Linked DNA regions of Homo sapiens. The protein of the gene in region 1 purifies or fractionates together with the protein of each later gene. This does not show direct contact. Each region holds a gene or a part of one and is shown in the gene's direction. Other genes may lie near its edges.

The links.
Region 2: the proteins of DMKN (region 1) and GPM6A purify together in Homo sapiens (co-immunoprecipitation; one large-scale study listed by IntAct). This does not show direct contact.
Region 3: the proteins of DMKN (region 1) and GOT1 purify together in Homo sapiens (affinity purification with mass spectrometry; one large-scale study listed by BioGRID and IntAct). This does not show direct contact.

What each region holds. Positions count from the first base shown.
Region 1 is NC_000019.10:35,496,719-35,500,336, reverse strand, and holds the end of DMKN (dermokine isoform 2 precursor), read left to right. Parts: intron 1-307; coding exon 308-379; intron 380-1,439; coding exon 1,440-1,463; intron 1,464-1,573; coding exon 1,574-1,621; exon of another isoform or gene 1,622-1,739; intron 1,740-2,655; exon of another isoform or gene 2,656-2,690; intron 2,691-2,798; 3' UTR 2,799-3,117; downstream 3,118-3,618. UniProt on the Homo sapiens protein: May act as a soluble regulator of keratinocyte differentiation.
Region 2 is NC_000004.12:175,672,688-175,676,340, reverse strand, and holds part of GPM6A (neuronal membrane glycoprotein M6-a), read left to right. Parts: intron 1-2,504; coding exon 2,505-2,661; intron 2,662-3,653. UniProt on the Homo sapiens protein: Involved in neuronal differentiation, including differentiation and migration of neuronal stem cells. Plays a role in neuronal plasticity and is involved in neurite and filopodia outgrowth, filopodia motility and probably synapse formation.
Region 3 is NC_000010.11:99,410,116-99,413,768, reverse strand, and holds part of GOT1 (aspartate aminotransferase, cytoplasmic), read left to right. Parts: intron 1-3,653. UniProt on the Homo sapiens protein: Biosynthesis of L-glutamate from L-aspartate or L-cysteine. Important regulator of levels of glutamate, the major excitatory neurotransmitter of the vertebrate central nervous system. Acts as a scavenger of glutamate in brain neuroprotection.

The sequences.
Region 1 (3,618 bases):
CTTCTTTTCTTGGTCTCCTACCCTCACCTCCCAAGTAACACTTGAAGAGTTGGCAGAGGTCTTGAGGGCAGGAGGAGGAGTAGGAGGAGGAGGCGGCGGCCATTTGGGCTAGGACAGTAAAGGCAGGTGAGGGTGGGGGCCCTGGCTGGCTGGAGGAGATTGTATAAAAGAAAACACGTGACACAAGGAGGGGAGCAGGCAGGTGTTTTAGGAAAGGTCTGGTCCAGGCAGGAAGGTGGGATGTTTATTCCAGAGCAAAATGGCCTTCGTCCGTCTGTTCTAACCGCCATGCCCACTTCTTCCACAGAACTACAATTACAACCAGCATGCGTATCCCACTGCCTATGGTGGGAAGTACTCAGTCAAGACCCCTGCAAAGGTGAGACCGGCAACCACCCTGTCTTCCCGCTGGGGGCTCTGCATGAGGGATGGGGAGAGAGGCTTTCACTGCCGGGGTCCTCTCGGTTGGTTGCCGGAGGCCGGATCCCGCTCTCTTTGAGTCCAGGCCTCCCCACCCCTTTGCAAGGGAGACTCGGGTTCCCTGAGACAGTTTGGAAGTGGAGGGCAGGAGGGTTCAATGCGCCTCACACCCACCCAGTCAGAAAAGGTTAAAAAGGAGCAGCAGCAGCAACAGAGAAAACTGAGAACCAACACCCTCTCCAAGAAGAATATAGGCTTTAAAAAATCATGACACCTGCAAAACACGCAAGCAGCTCTTCCTCACAGGTTCCCTCTCTGTGGACCTTTTTTTGCGGGGGAAGATGGAATGGAGGGCGAGGAAAGCAGACTAGCACTTAGGGGAGGCCGGCCTGTGGATGCCTGGTTGGCGGTGAAATGAATGCTTTATTCCACAAAGGAAATGAAAAGAAAAAATACGTGAGAATTTGGTTTTATTCCGTTGCAAAGAAGGCAATCTCATAACATCAGTAAATGAATATGCTAAGTACAAATTTGGCTGACAAAGCAACAGCAGGCTGTGTATTTCCATCTCTCATGACAATAAAGTCCCCGCCCTTGGGGAGAGGACCTTCCACTGAGGGACGAGAAACTACAGGCTGGTGAGAGGAGGGACATGCAGCTTCTACTGCCTGTGGCTTCCACTCTGCTGAGTTATCTGTGGCTTCCACTCTGCCGGGTTATCTGTGGTCAGTGTCTCCCTACCTGGCAGGCCAAAGCGAGGCCTATGCTCTTTTGACCCCCTTGGTCAGTACGTGCCCAGGAACCATGTTCAATATCATCTTGGATCAAGTGCACTCAGGATGATAAACGTGCTGTGAAACCAACTCCACAGCCTGAATGTCCACAGTCAGACTGGAAAACCTTGGTGATAGCCCTGGTGTGAGCCTGCCCTTGCTGCTGGGCCCTTCATGAGCGTGGAGGCCATGGCAGAGTACAGGGAGGCCATGACCCCACATCACTTTCCTTTGATCTTTTTGCAGGGGGGAGTCTCACCTTCTTCCTCGGTGAGTATGGGGGCCTGATCTTCATCTGGCTGGAGAGAGAAGGGGCCTGAGGCCAGAGGGTATGGAAGGGACCCTGTGGTGGCCACTCAGACTTTCTCTTTTTCTGGCAGGCTTCCCGGGTGCAACCTGGCCTGCTGCAGTGGGTGAAGTTTTGGTAGGTGAGTGTCAGAGTGAGCCGACCCAGGCCACATCCTGGCAGTGGAGGCACAGTCACCCGGGGCAGGGCCAGGATCTTGGTATATCCTCAGATCTCAGTGGGCAGCGACATGAAGTCAGGTATGCTCTGGGTGCGTGCTCTAAAGGTGATAAGGAAGAGGGGACCTCATGGTGGGGTGTGGAGAAAGACCCATAATAAAGTGATCTAGGGCTGGGTGCAGTGGCTCATGCCTGTAATCTCTGTGCTTTGGGAGGCTGGGGTGGGAGGATCACTTGAGTCTGGGAGTTTGAGACCAGACTGGGCAATATAGCAAGACCCCATCTCTAAAAGAACAAAACAAAACAAACCAAAACAAAACAAACCATTCCAGCCTGGGAAACATGGCAAAACCCCGTCTACTAAAAATACAAAAAATTAGCCAGGTGAGGTGGTGCATGATTGTAATCCCAGCTACTCTGGAGGCTGAGGTGGGAGAATCACCTGAGCTTGGGAGGTTGAGGCTGCTGCGAACTGCGATTGCACCGCTGCACTCCAGCCTGGGCAATCACAGTGAGACCTTGTCTCAAAACAAACAAACAAACAAATGAAAAACCTTAGCCAGGCATGGTGACACATGCCTGTAGTTCTAGCTACTTGGAAGGCAGAGGCAGGAAGATCGCTTGAGCCCAGGAGTTCAAAACTGCAGTGAGCTATGATCACACCATTGCACTCCAAGTCTGGGCAACAGAGGGAGACCCTGTCTGGAAAGAAAGAGAGAAAGAGAGAGAGAGAGAAAGAGGGAAAGAAAGCAAGCAAGAGAGAAAGAAGAAAGAAAATGACCTAGGACCCTCGGAAAGCACCTTAGGGTGGGACCACATAGGCACAGCTCTGAGAAGATGGTGTTCTAGATGGAGCACAGGGACCGGGATAGAGATGTTACAGGGGAACTGTGGAGAAAAGAGCCTCCTGGTGGAAGGGTTCAGAGGTGGGACGCAGCGAGGCTGCATGGGCGAGAGGTGATAGCTTGGCTCGGCAGAACCACAAACTCTGTTTTAGGCGGAGCAAAAGTGAGGGGCACCACAGGCGAACAGGTAGGACAGCAAAAGAATGGTGGGTGCCCAGACGCTGGGTGAAAAGATGCCCCGTTTCCGCAGGCTTAGGAGTGGCCACGTGCTACCATTTGATTTTCTTTCTTCTAGGCAATTTCTTGCAACCACCACCGAGGCCCCGAAAAGCACTGGTCGTCAGGGAGCTCCTCCCCTTGGCCCCCAGCCTGTGCCAGCCCTGGCCCGGCTGCCACACCTCTGTTTCCTAGGCTGGGGACCCAGCTTGTCTCTCCTTGTTTCTTCCCACTGCACTGTGGTGCTTCAGTGGCCACCAGCCTCGTCACATACACCAGCATCTTTCTGTACCTCCTCCCTTTGGTGACCTGAAGTCACTGTGACAGTTCTCCAGGAAGGAGGAGCTTCCTACTTTTGAGTTTCTCTGTGGAAATAAAACATGAATCTTGTTTCCCTACGACTTTCTCAAATTTTATTCTTTAATGCTATGTTGATGGCCTGGCTCAGGGAGGATGGAAGAGTGATTCAGGGGCAGCTAATCTGCCTTCTGCCTGAAACTGGTATAAAGCACAGAGGCTGAGAGAGATGAGACCTGGGTTTTATTTCTGACAAGAAGCCTGCATTGTGCCTCAGTTTCCTCATCTGTTAAAAAAAAAAATCATTGCCCAACCTATATCTGAATACCATTCTTTTTTTAGAGACTCAATCTCACTCTGTGGCCCAGGCTAGAGTGCAGTGGCACGATGTCGGCTCACTGCAACCTCCGCCTCCTGGATTCATGCAATTCTCCTGCTTCAGCCTCCTGAGTAGCTAGGATTACACGCATGCGCCACCACACCTGGCTAATTTTTGTATCTTTAGTACAGATGGGGTTTCACCATGTTGGCCAGGGTGTTCTTGAACTCCTGACCTCAGGTGATCTACCCGCCTCAGCCTCCCAAAGTTGCTGGGATTACAG
Region 2 (3,653 bases), on another chromosome or scaffold:
AGGCTGGGTGTAGTGGCTCACACATGTAATCCTAGCACTGTAGGAGGCCAAGGCTGGCAGATCCTGTATTAGTCCGTTCTCAGGCTGCTATAAAAGACATACCTGAGACCGGGTAATTTATAAAAGAAAGAGGTTTAATTGACTCACAGTTCAGCCAACTGGAGAGGCCTCAGGAAACTTACAACCATGGTGGAAGGGGAAGCAAACACGTTTTTCACATAGCGGCAAGAGAGAGAAGTGCAGTGAGAAGCAGCAGGAAAGCATCTTAGAAAACCATCAGATCTCACGAGAACTCACTCACTATCACAAGAACAACATGGAGGTAACCGCCCCCATGATTCACCTACCTCCCGGTGGGTCTCTCCCATGACACATGGGGATTATGGGAACTACAATTCAAGATGAGATTTGGGTGGGGACACAGCCAAACCATATCAGATCCCTTTGAGCCCAGGAGTTCAGATCCCTTCAGACCAATCTGGGCAGCATGGCAAAACCCCGTCTCTACAAAAAAAACGAAGAAATTTGCAAGGCATGGTGGTGCACACCTCTAGTCTCTACTACTTGGGAGGCTGAGGCGAGAGGATCACTTGAGTCCAGGAGGTTGAGGCTGCGGTGAGCCATGCTCGTGTCACTGCACTCCAGTCAGGGTGACAGAGGGAGACCATGTCTTGAAAAATAAATAAATAAATAAATAAGTGGAAATTATACGAAGAAAAATCATTAAAAATCTTAATTATGAAGGAAATTAGAAGTTCAAAGGAAGATTAGTGGGTTTATTGAAAGTGTAAATTTGTTTCATACTCACTGAATTCACCCAGCAGTCTCAAGGAAATATTTAACATCAACAAGTACTTATATATTGGTGCTGTATTAACTTTTAATTAGAAAGTCATGGTCTCTATCCAAAGAAATGTATATAATTAATACATTCCCAGTGTTAAATATAACCTGTTTTTTAGGTTAAGCAACTATTGCATAGCATTCAGTTGGTGTTATTGCCACATCTGCATTTAACTGGCTGTTTCTACAACTCTTACTACGTTGAATATAAAAGCTCACTGATCATGCAGATATATATATAATATATATACATATATACATATAAAATAAATAAATCCTAATGGAGTATTTAACTCTAGCTACACCTAGGACTATGAATATTCCTACAGATTTAAAAGATATTATTTGGAGCATATGTATGGAATGAATGTTTTCAAAACATGGGAATGCAAATGATCTTCATTCATAAATGAACTAATTGTTCTTAATGTTATTGAATATCATTTCCTAGTTACAGAGCTGGGGAAAAGAATTAAATCTATCTATCTATCCATATATCCATCTGTTATTATGTATCAGTTCTGGCTGTGCACATTTTTATATTTTCTAGATAAATGTTTTATTTTAGCCACATGGTGTTTTTTTCTTTTAAAAAAAAAAAGCAAAACTGGGTAATCAATTGTGAGAAAATGAAAAGGACCTTCCCATGCCACTATAAAAGTATGCCATATCTTGGCTCAGATCCAATTCTGCTGAATATTCATTAGTGAGTATACCTAAATGGCTTCATTGTCAATGTTTATCTGTAAAACCATATCTTTTCATTATTCGCATTATCATTAACAAATACACATGATGTGTATGATGAGTACAAAATAGAATACAACTATAATTGACTATCTGTAACGTAAAAATATGGAATTTGTATCATTTTATGTAAAACTACTGCATCATTAAGTATAAAGCTTCCTTCCCTTTTAATGTAAGTTTTAAAAACCAGTGTTACATACACAAATCTTTGCATTTGGTATTTTGTCCTAATTAGAGAAATCATATGATAATTACCCTACTTAACAAATGAATAGGCCAGGAGTAGTGGCTCAGCCTGAAATCCTAGCACTTTGGGAAGCCAAGGTGGTGGATTGCCTGAGCTCAGGAGTTTGAACCAGCCTGGCCAACATGGTGAAACCCTGCCTCTTCTAAAAAGACAAAATTATCTGGGCATGGTGACACATGCCTGTAATCCGAGCTACTTGGGAGGCTGAGGCAGGAGAATCACTTGAACACGGCAGGCAGAAGTTGCAGCGAGCCGAGATCGCACCACTGTACTCCAGACTGGGCAACAGAGCAGTCTCTGTCTCAAAATAAATAAATAAATAACTAAATAAAAATAAGGAGCAAATTCCTTTAGAAGTATAATTTATTGCTTATTCCAGCTTACTTTGGTGTGAACCAGGGAAGAGGAGAAGTTAGAAAAGAAGAAGAAACTGACAAACATGAAAACCTTAAATCTCTTGTCAACAAATATTGGAAGTGGCAGCAAAAAAATTGTATATAAACATTAGATATATGAAGCAAACATGTTTTTAAATCCAACCTTCATTATGAATATAAATATTCTATAACTTTCATTCCAAAAGAATCATGAGCATGTGAGAATCAATTTCTGCACAGCAGCAATGAAAAGTTATTGAAATAAATCACTTTGTCTTTTCTCTCAGGATTGACATCTTTAAGTATGTGATCTACGGCATCGCAGCTGCGTTCTTTGTGTATGGCATTTTGCTGATGGTGGAAGGTTTCTTCACAACTGGGGCCATCAAAGATCTCTATGGGGATTTCAAAATCACCACTTGTGGCAGATGTGTGAGCGCTTGGGTATGTTAGTTCTCTACATTCAGTATTTAATGTGGATTGATTTCAATAGCACACAGGTGTTTGCATTCATCTCCCAAGAATTAAAGTATTTTTTTTTCACACAGTAACGTTTCCTTCTGTGATGCTATCTTAAATCTTGATAACATTATTTTTGAAATTAAGATTATTCCTTGTGAAAATTCAGTTTCAAATACTCAGATTCTATGTAGCACAACTAGTTTTGTTTCTAGAGGTAGCAACACTGTTGATTGATGTATGGTTTTTTTTTTCCAAAGGGCTCTGTGATTCTCTTGAGAATCACAGAAAAATTCATCTCCAATTTATAAGCAATACATGTGCCTGTCTCCTGTTAAACATATGTCTCTGTATTTTACTGTAAATTTGAGGACAGCTATATCATATGATTTCTGTTTTCTATTAATTTAAGAATTCTATTAATTTCAGCATTAAATTTTAATTTATATAATATTTAATGGCAAATCAAACTTATAGTCTTACTCTACAGTTTTGTAATACAGACAATGCGTATCTATCTATTAATGCATGAGTGGTGAAAATGAAAAATAATAAGGTTGAAAGTACTTTTGCACTTTTATACAGAATAATTTTTCTAGAATGAAATGTTGAAGCTTCCATTCTTGACAGACATATTTTCCTTTTTTCTAATGTTATGTAACAACATGTGTCTAATTATAGCATATAATTCATGTTAAGTAAGCTGTCTCTAATAAGGACTGATGTAAATTACTTCAATCTCACAGAAATGTTCAAAAATGCCTGTTTACCAGCAAACCTTTTTTATTTTAACCTGTTTCTAACACATTTTATTATGCTTCTTGGTGTCAACAGCAACAATAATCTGATAAGATAGTTTGCCTGAGTTGTGGGTATTTGTAGTGGTCTCTGGAATTATTTCTTATAAGAATCATCTGTTTTTAGTTTGGGACAAAACTTATTGTAACACCCAAAGAGATAAAATATATGAGTAGGAG
Region 3 (3,653 bases), on another chromosome or scaffold:
TCTTCTGGCTTGTAGAGTTTCTGCTGAGAGATCAGCTGTTAGTGTGACGGGCTTCCCTTTGTGGGTAACCCGACCTTTCTTTCTGGCTGCCTTTAACATTTTTTCCTTCATTTCAACTTTGGTGAATCTGACAATTATGTGTCTTGGAGTTGCTGTTTTTGAGGAGTATCTTCATGGCATTCTCTGTATTTCCTGAATTTGAATGTTGGCCTGCCTTGCTAGGTTGGGGAACTTCTCCTGGATAATATCCTGCAGAGTGTTTTCCAACTTGGTTCCATTCTCCCCGTCACTTTCAGGTACACCAATCAGATGTAGATTTGGTCTTTTCACATAGTCGCATATTTCTTGGAGGCTTTGTTCGTTTCTTTTTATTCTTTTTTCTCTAAACTTCTCTTCTCACTTCATTTCATTCATTTGATCTTCCATCACTGATACCCTTTCTTCCAGTTGATCGAATCGGCTACTGAAGCTTGTGCATTCGTCATGTAGTTCTCGTGCCATGGTTTTCAGCTCCATCAGGTCCTTTAAGTACTTCTCTGCATTGGTTATTCTAGTTAGCCATTCGTCTAATCTTTTTTCAAGGTTTTTAACTTCTTTGCGATGGGTTCGAACTTCCTCCTTTAGCTCAGAGAAGTTTGATCTTCTGAAGCCTTCTTCTCTCAACTCGTCAAAGTCATTCTCCATCCAGCTTTGTTCCGTTGCTGGTGAGGAGCTGCATTCCTTTGTAGGAGGAGAGGCACTCTGATTTTTAGAATTTTCAGTTTTTCTGCTCTGTTTTTTCCCCATCTTTGTGGTTTTATCTACCTTTGGTCTCTGATGATGTACAGATGGGTTTTTGGTGTGGATGTCCTTTCTGTTTGTTAGTTATCCTTTTAACAGTCAGGACCCTCAGCTGCAGATCTGTTGGAGTTTGCTGGCGGTCCACTCCAGACCTTGTTTGCCTGGGTATCAGCAGCGGAGGCTGCAGAACGGGGAATATTGGTGAACAGCAAATGTTGCTGCCTGATCGTTCCTCTGGAAGTTTCGTCTCAGAGGGGTACCCGGCCATGTGAGGTATCAGTCTGCCCCTACTGGGGGGTGCCTCCCAGTTAGGCTACTCAGGGGTCAGGGACCCACTTGAGGAGGCAGGCTGTCCGTTCTTAGATCTGAAACTCCGTGCTGAGAGAACCACTACTCTCTTCAAAGCTGTCAGACAGGGACATTTAAGTCTGCAGAGGTTTCTGCTGCCTTTTGTTCGAGCTCTGAGCCTTTCTTCTGCTTGGAAGGCCTCACCATTCCCAGGCTGCTGTCTTAGTTCACTAATAGCCTCTTAATTTACCTTCCTGCCTCTAGTCTCTTCCCTGTTTTAGTACATTCTGCATGCTGCAGCTAGGATGACCTTCCTTGGCAAAACAAGCTACTCATGTCACCTGTTCCCACTCCCCACCCCCACCGCCCATAGCTCCCCCATTGCCTGTAGGGTAAAATCCAGACTTTGAGCTTGGCATGCAGTGAAAGTAGGTGACAGGTGACAGTCTTCATCCTGTTCTTACAGTTGCTGATTTCCCCTCACTCCACTAGAGGTCCTGACATTCTAAGAGTCTTGCTGTTCTCTAGACCTACTGGGCCCTGTCAAGACTAAGAACCTTTGCCTGGCCCTTCTCTCCATTTGGAATGCCCTCCCTTATTGCTCTAGCTGTCCAGTCCCCACCTCTAAGTCCTTCAAGAGCTGATCAAGGGTCACTTCCACACTGAATCCTTAGGTATTTTAGGCAGAGCTTGTTGTTTAAGCTCTCTGAGTTATCACAGGACTTTGTTCACAGCTTGGGAATAACAGTACTTAACTGTTCTTACTATAATGGATAATTTTATAAGTCTTCATCTCCCACAAGGCCCTAACTTTCCCCAGGAGAGTGATCATTGCTTATTTACCTTGCAGATTTTCAGCATTTGGCTCCTATCCGGGTACCTCAGGTTCCAAAGGTTTGGATTCATTCATTCCTTTAGTCATCAGATGCCCACTACTAGAGCCAGGCACTGTTCTAGATGCTGGAGCACAGCAGTGACTCAAACACACAGAATCCCCTGCCCTTGCATTCAGTTTCGGGGAGAGGAACAGACTCTAAATGTAATCTTTTTGACTATATCAGTAAGAAAATGATGTAGTATACTAAAGATGATAAATGCTATAAAAATGGAGCAGGAGGTGGCATGTTAGGAATTCTAGGAGTGGATACAGTTTTAACTAGGGTGGTTATGATAGAAATAGAAATGACATTTGAGCCAAAACTTAAAGACGAGACATAAATGAAAGAATGAGTGAACAAGTAAACCAACAGTAATTGTTTCTTCCCTTAGATTTTTCTTCTCCAGATTCAACATTTCCAGATCCTTTACCCATTTTGAGGAGACCTATTTTCTAGACTCCTCACTGCCTTGTATTACTTTTCCACTTTCAGATCTTAGGATCCAGACAGAAATGTCGATTTTTCATCTCTGGCATAGTGCTGTTTCAGCTTTGAGATTACTGAGCATTGTAGGAAGGAGGGCTCATGGGTCATAACTCATTGTCACATCATGACATCCCACTCTCGCTTTGATTGCCTCTAGGCGACTTGGGGCTTCTGCTGTGGCTCAGATCTTTTCACCACTGTCTTCTTTCTTCATCTAGTTCAGCACATGCTTATGTAGTACCATGTGCCAGATGCCGTGAGAGATGCTGGGGGCACCCAGATGAATGCAGCATGGCTCTGGCCACAGGCAGCTCCTGGTTGCTCTCCTATTCCTCATGGTGAAGTCATAGTATCGGCAAATTGTTATCTCAGACAAGGGTTCTAGAATCCAGCAATCTTATGCTGACATGTCCAACAGAGGCCTGCTCTATCTAGCTTCATACCAAGTCTTCCTGGATTTCCCTTGTTCTGGATACTCTTGTTTACCCAGGTCCAGTTGCCTGGCTCCTTGAGAAGTCTGTACTTACTTCCTTTGATGTTATGATTTTCCTTTATAACAAGTACAGGACATTCTTAGGCTGTAGGACAATTTGCCAAAAATCAGTTCACAGAATGACCACATTGCTATATTATTGATTCACCAAAAACTTGTTTCTGTTAGTTGCTGATGTTTAGAGCAACTTGTGTTTCACTGAAGCCATCCAGTATTTAATAGATTTTTAGGGAGTGATAACTTCTTGAGAATTTGATATTTCAAGTGTCATATATGTCATGAATGTCAAGGATTAGTTAATGTGGAGTGGGTTTATCTCTTCTAAGCACATTTTTAATGTATTCTACTGATTTTTAAAAAAATGAATTTGCTTTCTGTAGTGGGAGAGAAAGGGTGGAGTGAAAAGTTGAGAACAGGAAATGAAAAATTATGCCTGGGAATGTTTCCACTGGTATCTATGCATCTATCGTGTTTCCAGAAGTTAAAACCATGTTCAAGGGAGGTCTTGCTCATTTGCTTAGGAAGTATTAGCACTCTAGAGTGGCTTAGGTATCTGCAATGTGAAGTCATGTATGAAACTGACATTCAACTTAGCTGGATGACAAATCCATAAAAAATAAATGCACATTTGTGTTATATCATCTTGGTAGCAATTTGCATAAAGAATTCAGGTAAACCACAATGTGGGGGCAAAACTTTTAAAGTAATAGCAAGGGATGAGTGCTCAG